Linked DNA regions of Homo sapiens. The protein of the gene in region 2 interacts with the protein of the main gene of each other region in a pairwise test. Each region holds a gene or a part of one and is shown on either strand. Other genes may lie near its edges.

What was found.
Region 1: the proteins of DMRT3 (region 2) and GPSM1 interact in binary tests that used the Homo sapiens proteins (3 or more experiments, as listed by UniProt).
Region 3: the proteins of DMRT3 (region 2) and PLSCR1 interact in binary tests that used the Homo sapiens proteins (3 or more experiments, as listed by UniProt).

What each region holds. Positions count from the first base shown.
Region 1 is NC_000009.12:136,330,535-136,337,568, forward strand, and holds part of GPSM1 (G-protein-signaling modulator 1), read left to right. Parts: intron 1-3,912; coding exon 3,913-4,134; intron 4,135-5,431; coding exon 5,432-5,567; intron 5,568-6,386; coding exon 6,387-6,538; intron 6,539-6,906; coding exon 6,907-7,030; intron 7,031-7,034. UniProt on the Homo sapiens protein: Guanine nucleotide dissociation inhibitor (GDI) which functions as a receptor-independent activator of heterotrimeric G-protein signaling.
Region 2 is NC_000009.12:979,633-986,666, forward strand, and holds part of DMRT3 (doublesex- and mab-3-related transcription factor 3), read left to right. Parts: intron 1-7,034. UniProt on the Homo sapiens protein: Probable transcription factor that plays a role in configuring the spinal circuits controlling stride in vertebrates.
Region 3 is NC_000003.12:146,534,578-146,541,611, reverse strand, and holds part of PLSCR1 (phospholipid scramblase 1), read left to right. Parts: intron 1-431; exon of another isoform or gene 432-455; coding exon of another isoform or gene 456-478; exon of another isoform or gene 479-2,860; intron 2,861-3,567; exon of another isoform or gene 3,568-3,616; intron 3,617-5,046; coding exon of another isoform or gene 5,047-5,059; coding exon 5,060-5,072; intron 5,073-7,034. UniProt on the Homo sapiens protein: Catalyzes calcium-induced ATP-independent rapid bidirectional and non-specific movement of phospholipids (lipid scrambling or lipid flip-flop) between the inner and outer leaflet of the plasma membrane resulting in collapse of the phospholipid asymmetry which leads to phosphatidylserine externalization on the cell surface.

The DNA.
Region 1 (7,034 bases), about 140 Mb from region 2:
AGCCCGGTCCTGCGCCTCACTCTCTCCCCTCCCCTGGCCACTGAAGGGGAGTCGGTGTGGTTTTCCCTGGGGGTGTCTGGCTGGGGGATGGGGCAGATAGAGCCAGCTGTGAGCAGAGTCTCTTCAGCATCTGCTCAGGGGCCAGCATGTAGGTGACGGCCTTGGGGAGGGGCAGGTGCCAATTCTGTTAGCAGGGCTGGGACTGAGGGACACGGCTTTCGGGTGGCCGGAGGTAGTAGGAGTTGCAGTGCTGGCTTGGGAACTGGCCTTGGTGATGGCACCCCAGCCACCACGGAGGGTCTGAGGGTTCAGTCTGTTGACGAGGACTGGGCAAGGGAGAGGCATTCTAGGTCCTGCCCCGCCTTTGGCCAAGCTGTCCTGAAGGTGGACAAATGGTCTGGCCTGAGTAGGACCCCTGAGCCCACAAGGCCTCAAGGTAAGGAGGAGAGAGCCCAGGGCCTGAAGACCCCCACCTGTCCTTGGATTCCTGCCTCTGCTCAGACCCCGTGGCCGTCTCAGGGATAAGACCTGCCCCCCCAGTCCCCCGCCTCTGTCAGGTTCCAGCCTCCTCATGGGCCACAGGTGGCTGGAGAAGCTGGGAGCCCAGCTGAGAAGGACGCCGGGGGCTTGGGAAGTTTGAGGAAAGGAGCCAGGCTAGGGGAACGTGGTCCATGCCTCCCAAGCCCCACGACCTGGGGAGCGGCATCCCCCAGGCCCCACGTGGCCCTGACCCCGTCAGACCTGGGGCCCTGTTCGCACCTTGGCCAGTCAGGTGAGGGAGAGCACAGAGGGCCCGGCAGACGTGGGGCTGGCATGGTGAGGACTCTGAGCCCCCCCCCCCCGCTGCCCCATGCTGGCACCGTGGGCTGGTGCCAGGGAGGCTGGGGAGGGGGCCAGGTGGGGTCGGGTGGAGCAGAGGAGGCACAGGGGCCTGGAGAACCGGTAGGCGGCCAGGGGCCACCACTGCGCAGAATTCCAGCTTTGCCCAGCCCTGGGCCAGGCCTGGGGGAAGAGGTGCTGGGCTGGGGGCACTCACACACTCTGGACGCCATTCCTCTTTCCATTCACAAACGTGCCTGGCGCTCCCGAGTGAGCCCGGTCCTGGGGCAGAGCAGCCCCCGCTGGGAACTGGATAAACGTTTGCAGAGGAGTTGGCGGGTGACTGACGGGAGGGCAATGCCGCTGGTCCCAGTCCCTGGAGGAGCACGTTGGACGGGATTACCCCAGGGCTCCCCGCCCCGCTGCTGACGAGGCTGACCCAGCCTCTGAGCTGTCCTTGATCCCTTGATCCACGTCAGGGATTGGGGAGGCCCCCGAGCACCTGCTGGAGGACTGGCAGTCCCCCGCCGAGCTTTAAACCCACCATCCTGGAGGTCAGAGGGCAGGGAAGCCTAAGGCCAGCCCACCCCCCAGGACCCGTGGCCATGGTGGGGCGAGGGCTGGCTTGGGGGAGGAGGGCCTGGGGCCTGGCGATGCCATCCCCTGCTGGGGAGGGCCCGCCTCTGGCCCTGAGCTTGGCGGAGAAGGCCGTGTGCAAGGTGGTGTATGGCGCCCCCCGCCCCCGCCCGCTGCTGCTGCCCGTGGGCCTGGAGCTGTGGCTCTACGTGCAGAAGATGCGAAACCTGCAGAGGAAGAGGTGCGGCGGGCAGCGAGTGGGGTGGTCACGTGGGTGTGGGTGCCAGGGCGTGGTTGGAGGCTGTCTTGGGATGAGTGGAGGGGACACCCACCTGGTGCAGCTGCAGGTGGCTGGCTGCATTGCCTGGATCCCAGATTGGAGGTGCAGAATGACAGAGGCCCATCCGTGCACCCATCCCCGACTTTTAGGCCCAGGCCCTTCCCAGGCCAGAAGCCTCCTTCGCCTTGAGCCTCGGATGCCACGTCTCCGGCTGGAAGGGAGGCGGGAGGTGGCTCCCATCATCAGATCTGCGGAGCAGCAGCGTCTGGGCTCCACAGACACCCAGGCCTCAGGCCTGAAGCCCCTCTCCTCCGATGTTGCCTGGAAGGAGGGGGCAGTAAACCGAGTGAGACCACTTGAAAAGTGGCTGGGTGGGGCAAGTGGGCCTTAATCAGGAAGCCCCGTGCGTGGCGCTGGCTGCAGGATGGGGCTTGGCTGGTTGTCATGGCGACGGTGGGCTCCTGTGACCCACGTGGCATCCGGATGGCCATTCCCAGAGGGATGGGTGAGGTGGCTGTGAGGTGCCTGGCAGGTAGTGGGTGGGAGGGCCTGGCCCTGAGGTGAGAGGATCACTTGAGCTCAGGAGTTTGAGACCAGCCTGGGCAACATAGTGAGACCCCCATCTCTACCAAAAAAAAAAAAAAAAAAAAAAAGCTGGGCATGATGGTGCAAACCTGAAGTCCCAGATACTTGGGAGGCTGAGGTAGGAGGATGGCTTGATCCTGGGAGATGGAGGCTGTAGTGAGCCGAGATCGCACCACTGCACTCCAGCCTGGGCAACAGAGCAAGACCGTGTCTCTATAAAAATAATAATGGTAACATAAGTTTTAAAAATGAAAAATGAAAGCAACAGAAAGCAAACAGGAATGATGGGGCCGGCCTGCAAGCAGCCGAGGCTGAACCCTTCCCCCACTTCTCTGAAATCAGGTCCCTCCTGGGCTCCAGCTGTGCCTGCCACCTCCTGGGGCCCCCCAAGCTGCGCCCTTGCTGAGTCTTTTGTGGCTCTCCGGGGGCACCCTGCAGATGGGGGCCCGCCTGCTCACACTGGCCACCCCATGGCATCTGCTGGGTGTGTCCTCCCCCCGCGACCCTCCACCCAGGGCAGCGCAGCAGCCTGAGGCCCATGTGACCTGTAAGAGTAGGATGGAGGAGGACACCAGGCCCCAGAGCAGGCAGCAGGGAGGTGCGGAGCCGGGCAGCCACGGAGTGACCCCACACTCCTCCCCGGCAGCTGAGTGCCAAGGGCAGCTCCCCAAGGCCCAGGGTGGGGGTCCCTCGGTGAGCAGGGCTAGGGTGGCAGCTGACGCACAGGGTGCTTGGGGGTTGTGCAGGGCCCAGGGTGAGGGGTTTCTTCTCTAAAGTCCCTGCCCGAAGGTGGGGGACCACGGCCAAGCAGGGCGTTGGTGTTCAGAAGAGGGCCTGGCCCTTGGGGTTAGGTGGCGCTCACACGGCGGAGTTCACCTTGGGATGGGGCGCCATCCACATCTTCCCACAGCAGCGCTGGGGGTGGCGGGCAGCACCTGGGAACAGCGGGTTCTCAGGCCTGTCCTGGCTGGCAGCGGCGAGCGCTTAGCTCTGTGGGTGGGGGACCAGGAGGAGAGGGGCTGGGACTGGCTAACCCGCAGCCACACCTCCGCAGCACTGGTCTCCCCTGGAGACTTGGAGGCTGACTGAATCCCCAGGCCCTGGCTGGGAGAGCTTGGGGGTGGGGGAGGAGCCGAGATCAGATCCCCACCCCACCCGACCCCCATGTGGCCTTCACAAGCCCCCACTACCGTCTGGGAGCCTCAGTTGTTCTTGGTGGGAATTAGGGGGGCCTCTCCCAGCAGCTGTGGTCGCTCAGGAGGATGGCTAGGGTGCCTGGCCCCTGCAGCCCGTACCTCTGGGATTTGGGTGAAGGCAGGGTATGGGGGCCACACCCCCTGCAACACCGGCCCCTGGGCCTGAGGGTCTTGCCGGGGTCACAAACTCACACCTTTGCCCCAGTGGCGTTCCTGACCTTGGCCGCACAAGGGGTGGACAGGAGGTGCTGGCAGAGGTGTGCTGGCTGGGGCGCCCTTGGGCCGCACACGTGCTTCCAGGCCTGTATCCCAAAGAGACACTTAGGTCTGTGAGCACAGATGTGGTGTGTGCCCTAGCCCACCCAGGGGCGTCGTCTGTAGTGAAGCCACGGAGGTGCTCCGGCCCCGGGGCGACTTTGCCAGGGCTGGGCCATGACGCCAAGTTCCTCTGCACAGGATGGAGGCGTCCTGCCTAGAGCTGGCGCTGGAGGGCGAGCGTCTGTGCAAGGCGGGCGACTTCAAGACAGGCGTGGCCTTCTTTGAGGCTGCTGTGCAGGTGGGCACCGAGGACCTGAAGACACTGAGTGCCATCTACAGCCAGCTGGGCAACGCCTACTTCTACCTGAAGGAGCACGGCCGGGCGCTGGAATACCACAAGCATGACCTCCTGCTGGCGCGGTGAGTGGGGACGGTCCTGCTGGCGGGTGAGTGGGGCGGCCCTGCTGGCGCGGTGAGTGGGGACGGCCCTGCTGGTGGGTGAGTGGGGCGGCCCTGCTGGCGCGGTGAGTGGGGACAGCCCTGCTGGTGGGTGAGTGGGGATGGCCCTGCTGGCGGGTGAGTGGGGACGGCCCTGCTGGAGCAGTGAGTGGGGCGGCCCTGCTGGCGGGTGAGTGGGGGTGGCCCTGCTGGCAGGTGGACGCTTCCTGTCCTCAGCAGTTACAGTTTGAGGAGGGGGACAGGGCAAGCAGGGTCTAAGGGAACGCAGTGGGGAAGCCCTCACCTGGAGGGCAGCCAGGGCTCTGGGACCCCGGCAGGGAGCTGGGTTTCAGCTGACAGGCGTGAGTGGGTCTGTGTGTCTGCGTGTGAGAGCCTGGGCTGTGACCCGCGTGCTGTGCGTGAGCACTCGTGACTGTGTGTGGCCCATCTGTGATCCTGTGTGGCTCAGAGCCCCACCCTTTCCCTGGCCCCAGGCCCCAGGCCCTGAGCCCCGGGCCCACTCCCAGCCACTGCTCAGTGAGGTGTGGTCCTGCCCTGGGGGCTGTCCCTGCTTTCCCATGGACCCCAAGCTCCCACTCACAGCCTCCTTCCTGCCTGGCGTCATCCACTCCCCAGTCTCCCCAACCTACTCCCCGCCGCCCCTTGGGGTCTTGGGGTCTCCAGTCGGGTCCAGCCCCCAGGCCGTGCCTCACGGGAGCACGCTTCCCTTGCCTCAGCCCTGCCCAGCGCCCTCCCCCTCAGCCCTGCAGCTGCCCTGACCTCTCAGCAGGGCAGAGCTTCTTGGAGCAACCCTCCCGCACTGGCCAGTGAGCTCACACCTGCTCCTCAGCACCCAGCTCAGTGTCTGGTGGGCATGCACCAAACGTCCTCTGAATGAGTTAGCAGGAAGTTAGTTCTCCACCATCAGGCCCCCCAAGTCCTCCCCGGATCCTAAGAGCTGCAGACCCCAGCCCCCTGCCCCAGGCCCAGGCGTGAGGTCCTGTGTGTAGCTCCTGGCACCTGTGTGCAGCCTGTGTGGTGATGGGCAGGAGCCTGTGCCCCAGACACAGCCCAGCAGAGCCCATACCCAGGGCTGCCCTCGGGCCTCACTTGCCCGGCCTGTGGGCCCCTGCCCAGTATCACCTCAGGGGTTGCAGGCTCCTGTCCACTCCATGCTGGTCCCTGAGGCCCAGCTACCCCACCCCATGCTCAGCCTCCCCCCGGGCCCAGAGGCCTGACCAGTCCTCAGCCTGACCCCTCACTCCTCCCTGCCATCCAGGACCATCGGTGACCGCATGGGGGAGGCCAAGGCCAGTGGAAACCTGGGAAACACACTCAAGGTCCTGGGGCGCTTCGACGAGGCTGCCGTCTGCTGCCAGCGGCATCTGAGCATCGCCCAAGAGCAGGGAGACAAGGTGGGGGCTTGGTCCGGGGCTGGGTGTCTCCCACCCCTGCACCGGCCTGCGTCCAGATCCGGGATAGGGGCGGGCGGGTGACTCACCACTCATCCAGCTCCTCATGGGAGGGATGACAGGGAGGTCGGTCCCCTAGATCCCGAGTGACTCAGGAGAGTGTGGGCCCCCAAAACAGGCCCCCCCAGCCCATGCTGACACTGCAGCCCAGGCCCCCACCTTCCACCCTCAGTTCTGCCGCCCCTCTCGGTGACCTCCCCCCGAATCCCTCCACACCCCCAGTCACTCACTCCCTGGGGGGCCCAGCGGGAGGCAGGGGGTGGCTCTGGGCTGCGGCAGTGGGAGGCCGATTTCAATGGCGGTGGTGACAGCAGGAAGAGTGGCTCCGTCTCCGCTTGTGCTGGACCCGAGACAGGCTTTGCTGACCTCCCTCCATGGCCCTGTGAGGCGAGAAAACCAAGGCTGGGGGGACGTGACTTACCCCCCGTCACACAGCTGGAGGTGACCAAGGGGGCTTGAGGCCGCAGCATCTGGTCCCAGCTGGAGCTTTCAGCCTCGGTCATCAGAGGACAGAGCTGAGGACCTGGCACCCTGGCCACGCCAATCCGCAGAGGAGGGAGGGATGGTGAGGGAGGGCGGAGGCTGGCTTCCCGGGTGTGCCGTCCTCAGGCTTCCGCCCCTGCCTTAGTGTCTGTGACTCAGTGGGAGCCCCCAAGGCCCTCGCTGTCGAGGGCTGGGACAGTGAGGACACCGGTGTGCCGGCTCTGCACATCGTGTGGGGGGCCGTGGAGGCATGCCCCCAACCCTCCGTACTGCCCACAGGTTGGGGAGGCGAGGGCCCTCTACAACATCGGGAACGTGTACCACGCCAAAGGCAAGCAACTGTCCTGGAACGCCGCAAACGCCACGCAGGACCCCGGGCACCTGCCGCCCGATGTCCGAGAGACCCTGTGCAAGGCCTCCGAGTTCTACGAGTGAGTGGGGCAGGGCCAGCCCAGGGACCGGGGCTGGCCTGTGCGTTTCTGAGCTCCACAGACACTTCCAGACCCCCGACCCCAGCCCCATACCTCCCGACAGCTCCCAGGGCAGTGACGGCCAGGTCCGCCCACCCCCGCTTTCTCAGCTGCTGGCTCCCTCCCCTGAGCTTGCCCCTGTCAGGGACTTGGGGGACATGACCAAGCCCCAGGTCTCAGAGCTCGAGGACCCTGGAGCCTACCCTAGCCACCCTCTTTCCAGGGCATGGCCCTGAGGCCGCATGGAGGCCGCTACTCAGCTCTTCTAGCCTGGGGTGGGTGAGGACATGGGCTGGGAGGGACACGGCTCAGAGGCACTCGGCCCCCAGGAGGAACCTGTCCCTGGTGAAGGAGCTGGGCGACCGTGCGGCGCAGGGCAGGGCCTACGGCAACCTGGGCAACACCCACTATTTGTTGGGGAACTTCACAGAGGCCACGACCTTCCACAAGGAGGTGA
Region 2 (7,034 bases):
GATGGGGAGTGGGGAGAAAGGTAGGAAAATAATAGATGATTGTTTAGGAAGACAGGCATACAAGTGGATCCATTCTACACAGTGCTTGTAGAAATAAAGTCTATTTGGGGTTTAAGCTGAAGAAAACTGCTCACTGAGACTGCCTGTTGCTATAGGTATTATACCCTTTTTGCAGTTGTTCTAATAATGTATTTGTGTATAACATTCCATATGTATTTAGAAGCATATCAGAACTACTCCTGAATAAGTGCAGAGAGTAAGCAAAACTAAGTGCAGAGAGTAAGCAGAACTCTATTGGAATGGTAGTTCCACATGTACATTAAGTATACAGACCATCAGAAATCTTTCAATATCTGCTGGCAATGTAGATCTATTACTTTGTGAACTTTGACTTTGAAATGTGGTTAGTCTTTTTGCGGGGCAAAGGACCTCTTTAATACATAAGCTGTGAAGAGAGATTTTTTTTTCTTGTAAACAGAAGCACATGGAGTCTTTCCTCTCCAGAAATCTTTGAGAAAAGCACATGCCTTAAGGAAGAGTATGTTTGCTGTGAATCACTGGAGGAAAACCACCCCGTTGAGGGAGTGACATATTCACATCAAAACTCAGTTTTGTAACTGGAAGAATTTTTTCTCAAATTCTGCTTTAGATTCTTTAAAGGAATGGGGTTATTTTATCTAATGGTGTAGTATGTTGAATATCCCTTTCAATGTGTGGTGTTTTTAAGGAGAATTTTCATATTCTAGTGGTTTTTACTTCTAGTTATGAAGTATTCTTTTTTCTTTTTGAATGTAGATTTCTCCTTCTCTTTGATTACCATCTACGATGGACCTGGAATTAATTATTAGATTTTGATTGAGCTGAACATTTTGATTTAAGCTATGTATAGATATATTAAGCTATATATATCTATTAAAAGCTATATATATAGCTTAAATTTAAATTCTAATTTAAGCTATATATGTGTGTGTATATATATATGTATATATACATACACTATTTAATTCATTTATTCTTCTCCTAAATTCCCTCTATGTTCTTCTCATACTCCTTCTCCCCATGAAAATACAGGAGGCATGAAGATCTTCCAACTGTTAGTGTATCTGAATCAGCAGTTTTAATCAGCCTAGCCAGCCTTTCAGGACGTGGGCTCAAGAGCTGAGGGAAGTTAAGGGTCACTGCCAAGGTGAAAAGCTAAAGTTACATTCTTGTGTTGTGGCTCCCTTCCCTACCCCCAACTTTTCCTCCAGGGGAGTGTCCTCGGACACCTTAGACTGTGGTGCGATGAGAAGAAAGATCTGTGGCTGTAGACTCTTCCTAGGTCTCCATCTGCCATCAAAATGAATATGTACACACATTCTTTTAAATGCTTTTAAAAGGAAAAAGAAATCGAAAACATGGTTAGGAATAAGAGAGAAGGATCAAATGGGAAAGTAGGATCTTCTTTCCTGTTTATTTCTTAGGGGGTGGGGGCGGAGCAAACAAGATAACTATAGGGGGAGAAGTTAGGAGATTTTGGAAAACTGCCTTTATTTTATTTTTTCCTCTTGCCCTGCGCCTCCTAGCATCTTTATGCTTGCCTCTGGGCTTTTCTGCTCCGGCTTGACTGGGTCCCGCAAAGTCCACTTCCTTTTTTTTTAATTTTTTTTTCCCCCAAAGAGAAGCACCTGCAAGTGTAATGGGTGTTACGGAACACTCGTCCAGGCCAGGATGAGAAACCCTCTGACTGTTGGCTAGGAAGAAAAGAAAAGCGGGAAATACTTAAAAACCATTTATGAAGTGTACCTGTGAATTGAAAAACAGGGTCTCATTTTAAGACAGCTTGATTTGAGGGTGAGGGGCTTGACTCAGTTGCATTTTAAAAAACAAAACCCAACCAAATAAAAAGGAATACGCATACAGGCACTAAGGTCTCTTCCAAACCCCACCCCAGGGCTGGCTCTTGGGGCTGGGATGCTGCTGGGGACCGGTCTTCCCAGCTCTTGGCCTGGCCGGTTTGCACGCAGTGCAGTTGCTGTGTGTGTGTTGCGGAGGGTTGCGGCAGCTGGCCCAGGACTGGGACCCTGGCCACAGCGGGTTCAAAGTAGGGGCAAAGATAGGGGGCAGCGGCTCCTTGCGGCCGCAATGGACTGCCGTCTCCTTGCACCAGGGGGTCGGAGCTGCAGCTGAGCCCAGCTTCTCGCCGCCTGCTGGGGACGGCTCTTTCCTTGGTCACTGTCAGGAAGCAGCTCACTAGGCAGCTCAGGAACCGCCCAGAGACAGCCACATCCCTTGCCTTTCCCTTGCCCAGCTCTTGGGCCACCACTCCCTCTCTGCTCTTCCTGAGCTTCACTACCCTCTCCTTCCCAAGGCAGGAGTCCCGAGGTGAGTTGACACCTTCTGCAAAAATCATGCAAACAAAAAATAGGATGCCAATATTGCATGGGACATACTTTCTCTAGAAAGCCTTCTTTGTTTATTTGATGGTCCCACTTAACTGGACATCCTGTTATTTTATCTGGCAACCATAGGCCTAGGCCTTCCTCACCCAGCCCCAGTACCCACGCAGGGCACCCCTTGGCGGTGGGGTCGCCTGTGCTCATCTCCTAGTTCTTTCTCTGCAGAGCCCGAGCTGCCTGGGACTGGCGTCAGGGAGGTGCTGGGGTCCATCCTGTGGATCTGGGACGGTTTGGCAGGAAAAACGAGAGTGTGTTCCACGTCTAGGAACCAGAGTTCTACTGCCATCTGGGAAAGAACCTCTCTCCACCTCCAAATCACTCCTTGGTGTTATAAATCTGGAGGATAGCCGTGCTCTCGACTTACACAACCAACTTTTCTTTTTCCCTGATGGATGAACTCCCGGGTTTAAAAGATTACAGTAATCACAGGAGGACAGTGTGAATCGAATCTGATAGCAATAACTTTCGGAGAAGGTCAGGCTCAAGTGAAATGTTACCAAGCAACAGGCATTTTGTTTGCAAAATACAATCAAAGAGCATTGATGAGAAATTCTTTGCTGCAGCCAGTCAGCACTTTCTGCTAACAGCTTTACAGAGAGAAAAGGAATAAATCTTCATAAATCAAAGTCCCTGGAGGACTCGGAGCCCTTTTCTGGAAATGTTGCACTTCTTCCTGACGGGAAGGAGGACTAAGCCCAGCAAAAAACCATGGGCCTGCCTGCCCTGCCTGCCCGCCTCCTCTTTCTTTCTCTTCCTTTCTTCCTCGCCTCTTGCTTTTTTCCTTTCTTCCCGCCTTTAAACCTGTTGCAGCCCCTTAGCCATTAGCTGCTCAGGTCCTTGGACCTCCTTGTCTAGTCCTGTGTGGCTCTGATGGCTTGTGCACGGGTGCTCATGGCAGAGGTGGAGGATGCAGTGATAGGACAGCTGGTCCTCACAGGTCCACCGCCTTGTGATTGTGTCAGTTACGTCCCACATCGCCTTAGTGAGTCATCCTCTTGCCTGAGCAATGCATACTACTGTTCTCAGAAGGGAAACTAAAATAACTAGGTATGGGGTTTTTTTGCATTTTATTGCATAAACAGCTATAAAAGGCACAATCAAGTACCAAGTAACAATAATAATAATGAAAAACTTAAGAGTCGGCACATCAATTCTTTACAAAATCTCCAATCTCTTGATTACAACAACTAGGCAGACATAAATTTTACAGAGCTGGGATTAGTGTTCCACGTTTTTCCCACTGATTATTACTTTGTTTAGTTCAGTATATATCTCTAGCACCCATAATCTTTATATGTAAGCATTTAAAACAATATTTCCTCCTGTGAAGACACCATGGTCTGCCCAGCTGCTATCCTTGGAATTATTTGCTGTATTTCACTGTGAAATATAACCAACTGCAGCTTACTTGGAATTTTGCAAAAGATTAGTTAGTAAACTGTATGCCTCTCAGTGGTCAAGAGGCAATGCTTTGATCATCTCTGTATGATCTTACCCAGCACAGTACATGAGAGCATAGTAAGGCATTTAGGGGCATTTGTTAAATAGATGGATGAGTTAGACAGGTGCATTTTGGAAGGTACCAAATAAACATGTAGATTTGTAGGTAATTTCCCCTCTGCTTCTTGGAAGGTATTCCCTTCTGAGTCAAGAAAGAGATCAAAACTAATTTTTTACAAAATATGTGAGGTCCACAGTTGCAAACCATACTTCCTTCAGCCCAGTCCTGTCTATAGCAATATTCCCCCAAAATATAGTGTCAAGGAACCACTCTGATTCCTTCATACGTTATTAATTCAGTGTTGTTAATGATTTTTTAAAAAGTAAAGCATGGCTAGTTTTTTTTTTTTTTTTAACTTTTCACAACCCTCCCCAACCCGGCAATCCACCCCAGGAAGAAAAGGAAAGTTTTTAGATCGAGATCATTCCCTGGTGTTCTTTAGATTTTCAACTATTCATTTTTTTAAAATAATTCATCACTTCTAGTGTGAGATGAAGGTAAGAGAAAATGTGAAGCGTTTGTCTACGATTAGAATTCTGATTAGGCAATGGTCTCCTGTAAAAGTCTCATCCTGCCTGGGCTCCCTCCCTTGCCATTGTTGTAAGATTTATGTGCTTTGAAAACTACCCATCAAGGACCTGTTATTTACAGGTGTGTTCCCCACAGCTCAAGTGAACAGATGAGGATATGACAATCTATGTTTCAAAATGCGTGACATGATTTCAAAAGGGATGGGGGAGTCCAGTGACTTTTGAGCTAGGAAATATTCCTCTCTGCTCGAGTTTTTCTGTGTTTTCATTCTGTATGTAAGAACTATTTTGTTTTCGTAGATATAATTGGATAGAATGGATATAACCTATGACATCTAAGTCAGAAAGATTTTTCACATTTTTTTTTTTTTATTTAGACAGTCTAATTCTGTCGCCGCAGCTGGAGTGCAGTGGTGAGATCTGCAGCTCACTGCAAGCTCTGCCTCCCGGGTTCACGCCATTCTCCTGCCTCAGCCTCCTGAGTAGCTGGGACTACAGGCACCTGCCACCATGCTCGGCTATTTTTTTTTGTATTTTTAGTAGAGATGAGGTTTCACCATGTTAGCCAGATGGTCTTGATCTCCTGACCTCGTGATCCACCTGCCTCGGCCTCCCAAAGTGCTGGGATTACAGGTGTGAGCCACCGCGCCCAGCCAGATTTTTCACTTTTATGCATCGTGAGCAGAATGTTTGTTTCTCATATGTGGTAGACTTTCTCAAAGTATTTGAAATAATACATTTTTTTTTTACTAAATTGCATTTTTATGTGAAAAACTCCCCTAAAGAAAGTTACATTTTCAAACTGTAATTTTAGATTGAAAGCACTTTTGTGAGTGTTTATTTTCTCTCTTTAAAGTCTTGTAGCAAAAAAAGAAAAAAAAGTATTGTAGTCATCTTATGGCATATATATTTTGAAGTCGGTAGCATTGTTATCTGTAGAAAAACTTTTCTTTTTAATTGAATATCTACTTCTTTTAAAAACCTCTTTACCCTAGTGCACAGTTTATTTCAGGGATAGCTATAAGTGTTTCTACCCCATGAAATATGAAATGGAAGAGAGAATATTAAGATTTTAAAAATATGTACATGTTTAGCAATAGAAACAGCATATTGTATCACTTTCAGTAATATTTGTCATATTCGATAAAATTGATTTCTTCCCTGTTTAATAGCTTTGACTTTCTATACCCATCTACCGGGGTAAAAATATTATCAGTTGATATACACTCTTAATGTTCTAGGAATTAGGGTTTCAGTTTCAAGAAGAAAGAAGGTAAAATGTTTCAGGAGTATTTCCTATTTTATTTTGTTAGTTGGCAGTTTCACATTTCTATGTCTAGAAAGGCCTTTATGTTTTAAACCAACTAGAATGATTTGTAAAGTTTATTTAAGAACAAATCTGGAGATGTAAAGAAGTACCTGTTATTAAATTACACTTTATCACTGGGCTCAAAACTCACCCTCTATAATTACCTGTGAAAGTCTGTATTTATAATAGAATAATTTACAATATATTTAGTTTAGGTGCAATAATACAACCAGTACTAGACACCATAGCGCCACAAAATTGCAGGAACTATATATCCTGCCCTTCAGAAATTATTGTTTGGTGAGGAGTTATTCTTGGTGCAAAGTTAGAGGCTAGTCTTCCTTTGCCTAGTTTTGAAACTCCAACAGCCTTACATGTTGATGGGGATTTGGCTCACCCAGCACTACTTAGCAGGACCTTGTGTGCGGCTCAGGTGCATAAGCCTCACAGGTGTGCTCTGCTTGTTCTTTCATCATCTTTGTCTTTCCTTTGAACACAGTGTAAGCAGTGCTGAGCTCAGCTGGTTGGTTGGTTTACGCTGAATTTGTAGATTTGATTCCTGTGACATTGTGTTAGCTTTTCTCATATTTTGGCTATAGCCAGACGGCACAGAGACCTGCGGAGAGAGCATGGAGGATTCGGTGTAATCTATCACCACTCCTTGACAAGTAACCAGAAGTGCATGATGCACTAGCATGTCCCAGTAGCAGGGGCAAAGGGTAACACAACAAAATGAGAAAGTGACTTTCACAGTCTGAGAGTTCACAATTGCTGAACAAGCTGGCACTGACATAAGATTCCACTACCGTCTGTTCCGCAGAACTTAGGAAAATAGGTACAAGAGTGGAATTTTATATTGTCAGACTTGTAATCCTGGTATCAAGTATTCAGTTGATTGGGACAGTATATCTGTTGCTACCTTGAAAAAAAAAAGCCTCCATTTTTGTAATGGTAGAGTCATTATGTTAGTGAGAACCTCATTCCCTAATTCCCCTTTCAGTTAGCCTTCTGCTGTTTGATCCACTTTTTTTCTGGAGACTGAAGTGTACTGTGGAAGAGTCAATTTGGTTGACAGACCTGAGAAAACACTTCCTAATATGTTTTCAGTGTTTGAAACTTATCTAAAGTGGGGGCAGGGGATGTACCTTTTAAAACACAAAGCTATTTGGTTCATATATTTCTTTTAAAAATAGTTGAGCTGGCCGGGCGTGGTGGCTGACTCCTGTAATCCCAGCACTTTGGGAGGCTGAGGCGGG
Region 3 (7,034 bases), on a different chromosome or scaffold from region 2:
ACAAATTTCACTGAAGGATGTCAGTCTTCCTTTTTTCAGTGAATTAGAGACATCGGTGCAAAGAATATGAATTATTAATCATCTTAATTCAGCTAGTTAGCAAGCTGTATCACATTTATTAAAATCACTTTTATTTCTATGGGTTTAGTTTCACCATTTATTAGGAGGAAAGGAAGCAAATTTGTGAGGGAGCTCTGGGTTGTCAGGAAAGGCTTTTCAGAGTAGTAAAGCAATCAAATGAGAATAACTGATTCAGTATTTGTTTCCTTTGTCTCTTTGGTTTACTTTTTAGTTTTGTAGAACACTTGATCACTACCATCTCACTTGGTCCTAGTTGATGTATCATCTACATTTTTATTCAAGGTTTAATATAAAATGCTATAAAAGGCTATCCTAAACTGGTTTTAAGCATATTTGTTTTGTTTGTTCAGCATAAAATACACAAGAGGATTTTTATGGAATGGCTCCTTGTTACAAGGTACTTTGCATTTATAATCAGCCACAGTCACCTCAGTTTCATCCCGTATCTTACAAGTATGATGTGCTGTATACTCAAAGCCTCACCACCTGCTTGCCCCACCCATTTGCTTAAATGTATCAATTTTTTCTAAGCTTAACTTTTACCAAAACTGGAGTTCAACAGATGAATATTTTTCCTTCTTAGATGTTAACTAAACATTTTTAAAGGTACAAAATTTATGTACAAACATAACCCAAATGACATGGAAGTTACTTGATTTGTGACTTACCTCTGTAATGTTCCCCTGGCCTACTTGAAATTCCTACCTTTCCTCTAGTCTAGTATCTTATTCTCAGTTATTCGGAGGAAGTTAGGGACCTAGAATTCTTGTTTTCAGAGCAGTAGAATTTTGCTAACATAATTCAAAACATTTATCCCTATCTTGGGGCTTGAAGAGAATGTGAAATGCTTTATCTTCTGTTTTGAGGGAATGAGGGAAGGAGCTTGTTCTTAGGCAATTAACAAGTAAATTTAAATAAATAATCCAAATCTGGTGTGGGTAAACAAATTTTAGTTTTAGGAACTTTCAAAATTAAGTATGCTTCCCCTTTGGGTTCCAGATTTTACAGTAATACTTTTTGAAAGCAGTAAGATAAAAATTTCAGGACCTCAAGAGATGGGTCAAAAGAGTTTCACTGTAATATGAATTTTGAAGCCAGAACTGGAAATCCCCTGTGCTGTGTCTTCCTCTTCGTGGTAGTAGAGGTTACAGTTATCAAATAGTCCAGAGAAGCAATGGGAACTTATGATTTCTGATAGAAAAATTTTAACAGAGATGTACTTGTATGCAAATAATATATGATGCCTCAGTTTCCTCCAAAGTCTTAGTTAACAGAGTTAGAAAAAATCAGATTATATTTGAAGTTCTGTGTTCATACTGGAGTAATTATTATTCCAATGGTACAATATACAACATAACTTTATTACATTTTTTGGTACAGCATAAAGATGATTTTCCCTTTCTCTGAGTATTTCTGAAATTTAAAATGAAATAAGTGTGGTAGAAGCCATTATTTATGAATTATCATGCTAAATTAATTAACTCATTAATTCATTCAGGGCACACCCAGTTATTCCCCAAACTGAGTGATGTATTTCTGGGAATAGACTTATTAAGCTTGAGAAAACCCAAAGGATCATTATAACAGCAAACAGGAATGTAGGCATCCACATAGTGGATGACTTTAGTGACCTGGCACACAGTGCCTTATCTACTTGGCACATGTACAGGTACAAGGAACACTTAACATTTTGCACCAGAGCTTATTACATACCACTTTCAATGCTTGAGATATTATATAAATGCTAAAATTCTAAAACCTATAGTAAAGCAAAGACCCAGATTTTATACTGCAGTAGTTTTGCCAGTAAGTCTCATCCTCACTAACTTATCTTTTAAGATTAAAAATAATGTAACCAAGTGGGAAGAAAAAGAGCAAATATGAACAAATTGTCATTGTTTTAGAATCTGCTTCTTTTCCTTTCCGGTATTTCTGTGCAAGGAGAGAATGATCTCTGACCTTGTGAAAGGCAAATACCATGTGTATTCATGGTTGTTATTCATTTGGCAACGACTTGAAACTCATGACACTCCCTGCTGAAGATCCTCCACCTATTCTTAACAGCTGGGCTCCCCAGCTCCTGGATCACCAACCAGTACCAGTCTGTGGCCTGTTAGGAACTGGGCTTGTACAGCAGGAGCTGAGCAGCTGGAGAGTGAGCAAAGTTTCATCTGTATTGACAGCTGCTCCCCATCGCTCACATACATTACCACCTGAGCTCAACCTCCTGTCAGATCAGCAGTGGCATTAGATTCTCATAGGAGCAAGAACCCTATTGTGAACTGCATGTGTGAGGGATCTAGGTTGCGCACTCCTTATGAGAATCTAATGCCTGATGATCGGTCACTGTCTCCCATCACCCCCACATGGGACTGTCTAGTTGCGGGAAAACAAGCTCAGGGCTCCCACTGATTCTACCTTATAATGAATTGTATAATCCTTTTGTTATATATTACAATGTAATAATAATAGAAATAAAGTGCACAATAAATGTAATGCGCTTGAATCATCCCAAAACCATCCCCTGCTTCACTGGTCCATGTCTTCCACAAAACCGGTCCCTGGTGCCAAAAAGGTTGGGGACCACTGTTTACCAGGATGCATAGCATGGGTTTATGAATTCCCTATCTTTGCAGCACATCCTTTATTTCTGGCTTGCATGGGACTTGAAAGCCTAAAACAACTAAATGCTAAGAAAAATTATTTTTAAAATGATGACAAAAATATTTTCTATTTCAGATGTATAGATCTGCAATCCAGAAACTATGAATTTTTTTCAGTTGAGTAGTCTGTTTGCCAAAAAATAAAAAAAAATAAAAAATAAAAACTTGCCTAAGTTTCTTCTCTTACATTTTATTTAGGATTTGCCCTTAGACATTATTTAGTGCTTTTCTGACCCTGTAGGGACGGTGAGAATAATTGAAACACTAGTTTCTTAAAATTTCTGTTAAAATTGGTTAAAGGCCATAGAATTTTTTTTTTAAGCTAAGCATGTTATAGAGAGGTATCCTATAAGAAGCAAGGGGCAGGTAAAGACTTTAGAGATGTATAGTCCAGTGTGTTAATTAAAGGATACTACCTACTTCTAATTCGGTATGTATTAATCTTTTCTGATATATCTGTTAAAGTACTCTTCGCATATTTTTAAAAAATTGGCATTTTAAAGTATAGTCTTTGATGGTAGAAATGTGAGATTGACAAAAATCATGTCCTCTTATGTATGAATTTAGTCTTACACAGTTCTTCATATGATGGAATCTAAAACAAATGTAGTCTTGAAAACTTTTAGTCTACTTTGGTTACATGTGTTTATTATTGCTCACCTTATAGATTAACAGCAGAAAAGTATAAATTTTAATATTTCTACCTTTCTGGCTTGAGGTCTACAGCATTAATTTCTGACCAGTTAATGCAAACTGAGATTCCTATTGTCCTAAGAAAATCTGGGAAGTTAGTAACACAAACACATCTTTTGATTTATTTCAGGACCACATAAACCCATTTTGAATTATTCAACCATTGCTGAACTTCTTGAGTATGTATAATTAAGAGTTGACTATAATTGGAATGTTCTTAAGACTTTAAGTTGATTATAAAATTTTGTGCTTAAAGTTGGCAATAATCAAAACAAAACAAACAAACAAAAAAAACCCTTTATTTTAAAACACAGTCTTGCTCTGTCACCCAGGCTGGAATGCAGTGATGACATCATACTTCATTAGACCGTCAATATTCCAGGCTCAAGCAATCCTCCCACCTCAACCTCCCGAGTAGTTGGGACTACAAGCGCATGCCACCATGCTTGGCTAATTTTTTTTTAGTAGAGACAGTGTCTGTCCATGTTGCCCAGGCTGATCTCAAACTTCTGGACTCAAGTGATCCTCCTGCCTCAGCTTCCCAAAATACTGGCATTATAGGCATAAGCCACCATCCCTGGCCAAAAAATAATTCTGAAACAGCAAGGAGGAAGGCGGTTTCTTCTTGGGAAGTCTTGATTTTAGTTGAGCATGTAGAGGGATCACTTGACTTATTAACCACTTAGGATTGCACAGTAAGATAATTTAAAGGGTAGCCAGCACTGGAGTGGGCCTGGGAAGGGGATGGGCAGTTTGTGTTAGTGTGTGTGGGTCCAAGATAAAAATGTTGGGTAGCAGAGTTTTGCCTAATGCATTGTCGCTAAAAGGGATGAAGGGCATCGGGATCTACAGGAGATGGAAAAAGTAGTGACAGGATAGTAGTGGGAAAAACTAGGATCGGATCAAGGCACTGGAAGGCAGAAATATTGAGTAGAATGTTTGCTGCAATTTATGTTTCTGTATAAATACCGAGTACAAAGTTTCACTTGGGTGGTCAAGGTGCTATGGCTGTGACAACTCCTGAGAGTGGGTTTTCTGGTTAAAAAAAAAAAAAAATCTCTGAATGCACGGAGTCGTCTCAGGCCTTCTCAAATTTGCAAAGAACAGGTCCACAAGACCTACATTTCCCAAGATAATTGCAGTAGTGTGACCTGATAATTAACATTTTTTGCTTTCCTGCTGGAACATTCCTGGGGCCCAGAGACTGGGCCAAGCATTTCCAGTCCAAAGACTGGGAACTGAACCAAGCATTTCCTTTAGATTGTTCAAGTTGTGAAGGTTGATGTTATTAGCTTGGTTACTACTTGGAGTCTTAGCTCATAGTGTGTCTTTATGGCTTTCTGCCTCACTGGACCCTCTTCCCAAAAGGCTTTAGAATGTGTTCACCATCATGAGCTGACCAACAATTTCTAAATTCCTACTCAGAAACACAGCAAGGGGAATGCAGTCAAGCACAAAGGGCTTAAATGACCAGATAAGGCTGGGCTGGATGAATAAAGAGGAATATCCTATGAATGTGACTGTGTAGTTTTAGAGTATCCCGATTCAACTGTTATATTTGACTTGTGGCCTTGTAGACAGTGTGTTAATGTCAGATCTTCTTTTTCAGAACTGTTTTAATCATGGACAAACAAAGTAAGTAATTTATTTTAAATGTTTACTTTCCTCCTTATAATGTTAATCTGTTGGTAACTTGTTATTTGTCATAATGTTTTATTCAGTGTCTGAAAGTGTATAATTTGTTTTCTGTTGTTTATGCTCCAGAATACAATGTCTAGTTCAGTATTTTGACTATAGAGAAGATGTACAAAAATAGCACTATCACTAGGTTCTTCATTAAAAATACGAAAGCCTTTTGGAAAGCTAAGAAATGCTAGATTTATTGGGAAATATGTTCTGTAACATATATTTAAACCACAACAATATTCTCTTTGTGTATTTTATATGTATAAAGATTATTCAAGTCATACTAATTAACAGATAATAAGATTTGAGTTCATTGTAATAAACTCCTCAGATACACACCTCAATGTATATTTCATCACAGACACATGTTTGTATTTTAAGTAAATACCAGTCATTATGTTCTGGCTTTTTTTCTCTCAAGAAAATTCTAAGTAAGATGGATATTTATCAAGCAAGTAATAAAAGACTGTCTTATTAAGATATCAAGGTTCTGAAGAACAGAGGGAAAATTATGTTCAAAATTCCCACTACATAGGGAAAATTAAATTCAAAAATTAAATCCTGTTTTTCTGAAACGCTTTTCTTTATTCTCTCTTTCATCTTTGTTGAGGTAACAAAAAAATATTTATCTGTCACTACAGTGTCACCCTTATTAGATATATGAAATAATCTCCAGGACTAGACTCCTTGCTTTTCCCATGTGAAGTTTTATGATTTTCTTTTTACTTACAAAACTCAAAGCTTTTTAAATGTAAATTTATATAGAATTATACTGGTTTATTTGCCACAGACTTTAAGTTGATTCCACTCAATTTACAAAAATGTATCTGGTGATGGTCATAGGCAACTTTTAACTCTTCAGTTTTGTATATATAATTGTATGTATGTATGAATGTATTTGCATAAATAGAAATAAAATGTGTATATGTGTGTGAATAAATGTGTAAATATGTATATATACATACATGTAGACATAAAAAAAAGTACCTTTAAGACAATGTGATAGACTTGTACTTCTTATAAGCCATTTTAAGTTGCATTTCAAAAACGCAGTAATCAAACCATAATTAACATGCTCTTTGTTCTGCTTGAACACCTGCCCATTCACTCATTCTCCTTGTATGAATTCCCCCTGGAATGCCTGAAATCAGAATCATTGCTTTGGTACCAAAAGCCCAGAGATTGTGAGCTCATGATTTCTTGAGTCTGTCTGTTCCTGTATATGTGTGTGTGTGTGTGTTCTATGTTATAGTATTCAAACAATGTTGCTTATTAAGAGGTATCACAATGTGACATACCTGTCAAGGGTAGATCTTTACTTCAGACTTGCAAAATATTTTCTTGAAATCTATTCTGAGTCTGATGCTGTGTTTCCAACTTAATTTGGGAGTAGGGGCTGCAGGCAGGGCCTTATTAGCTAGAGAACTAGGGAGTTAGGTCAGTCACTTGATGCTGAGAAATAGAAGAGAATGGATGGGAAAGAATGATGGGGAGTTTCAGAGATTTGTGATGATTCACAAATCACAAGGTATGTTGCAATGTTTGTCCAGGGAAAAGTCCTCATTTGTTTTTTGTTGTTGTTTTGTGTTATTTATTTATTTATTTATTTATTTGAGATGGAGTCTCGCTCTGTCGCCCAGGCTGGAGTGCAGTGGCACGATCTCGGCTCACTGCAACCTCCGCCTCCCGGGTTTAAGTGATTCTCCTGCCTCAGCCTCCTGAGTTGCTGGGACTACAGGCGCGTGCCACCATGCCTGGCTAATTTTTGTATTTTTAGTAGAGATGGGGTTTCATTTTGTTGGCCAGGCTAGTCTTGAACGAGTAGGAGAGCGGTTTTTTTGCCTGATTTTACACAATCACCATGGACTGGATTCCGCTGAAGTCATCATGAAGCTATTTATGAAGGAGAAA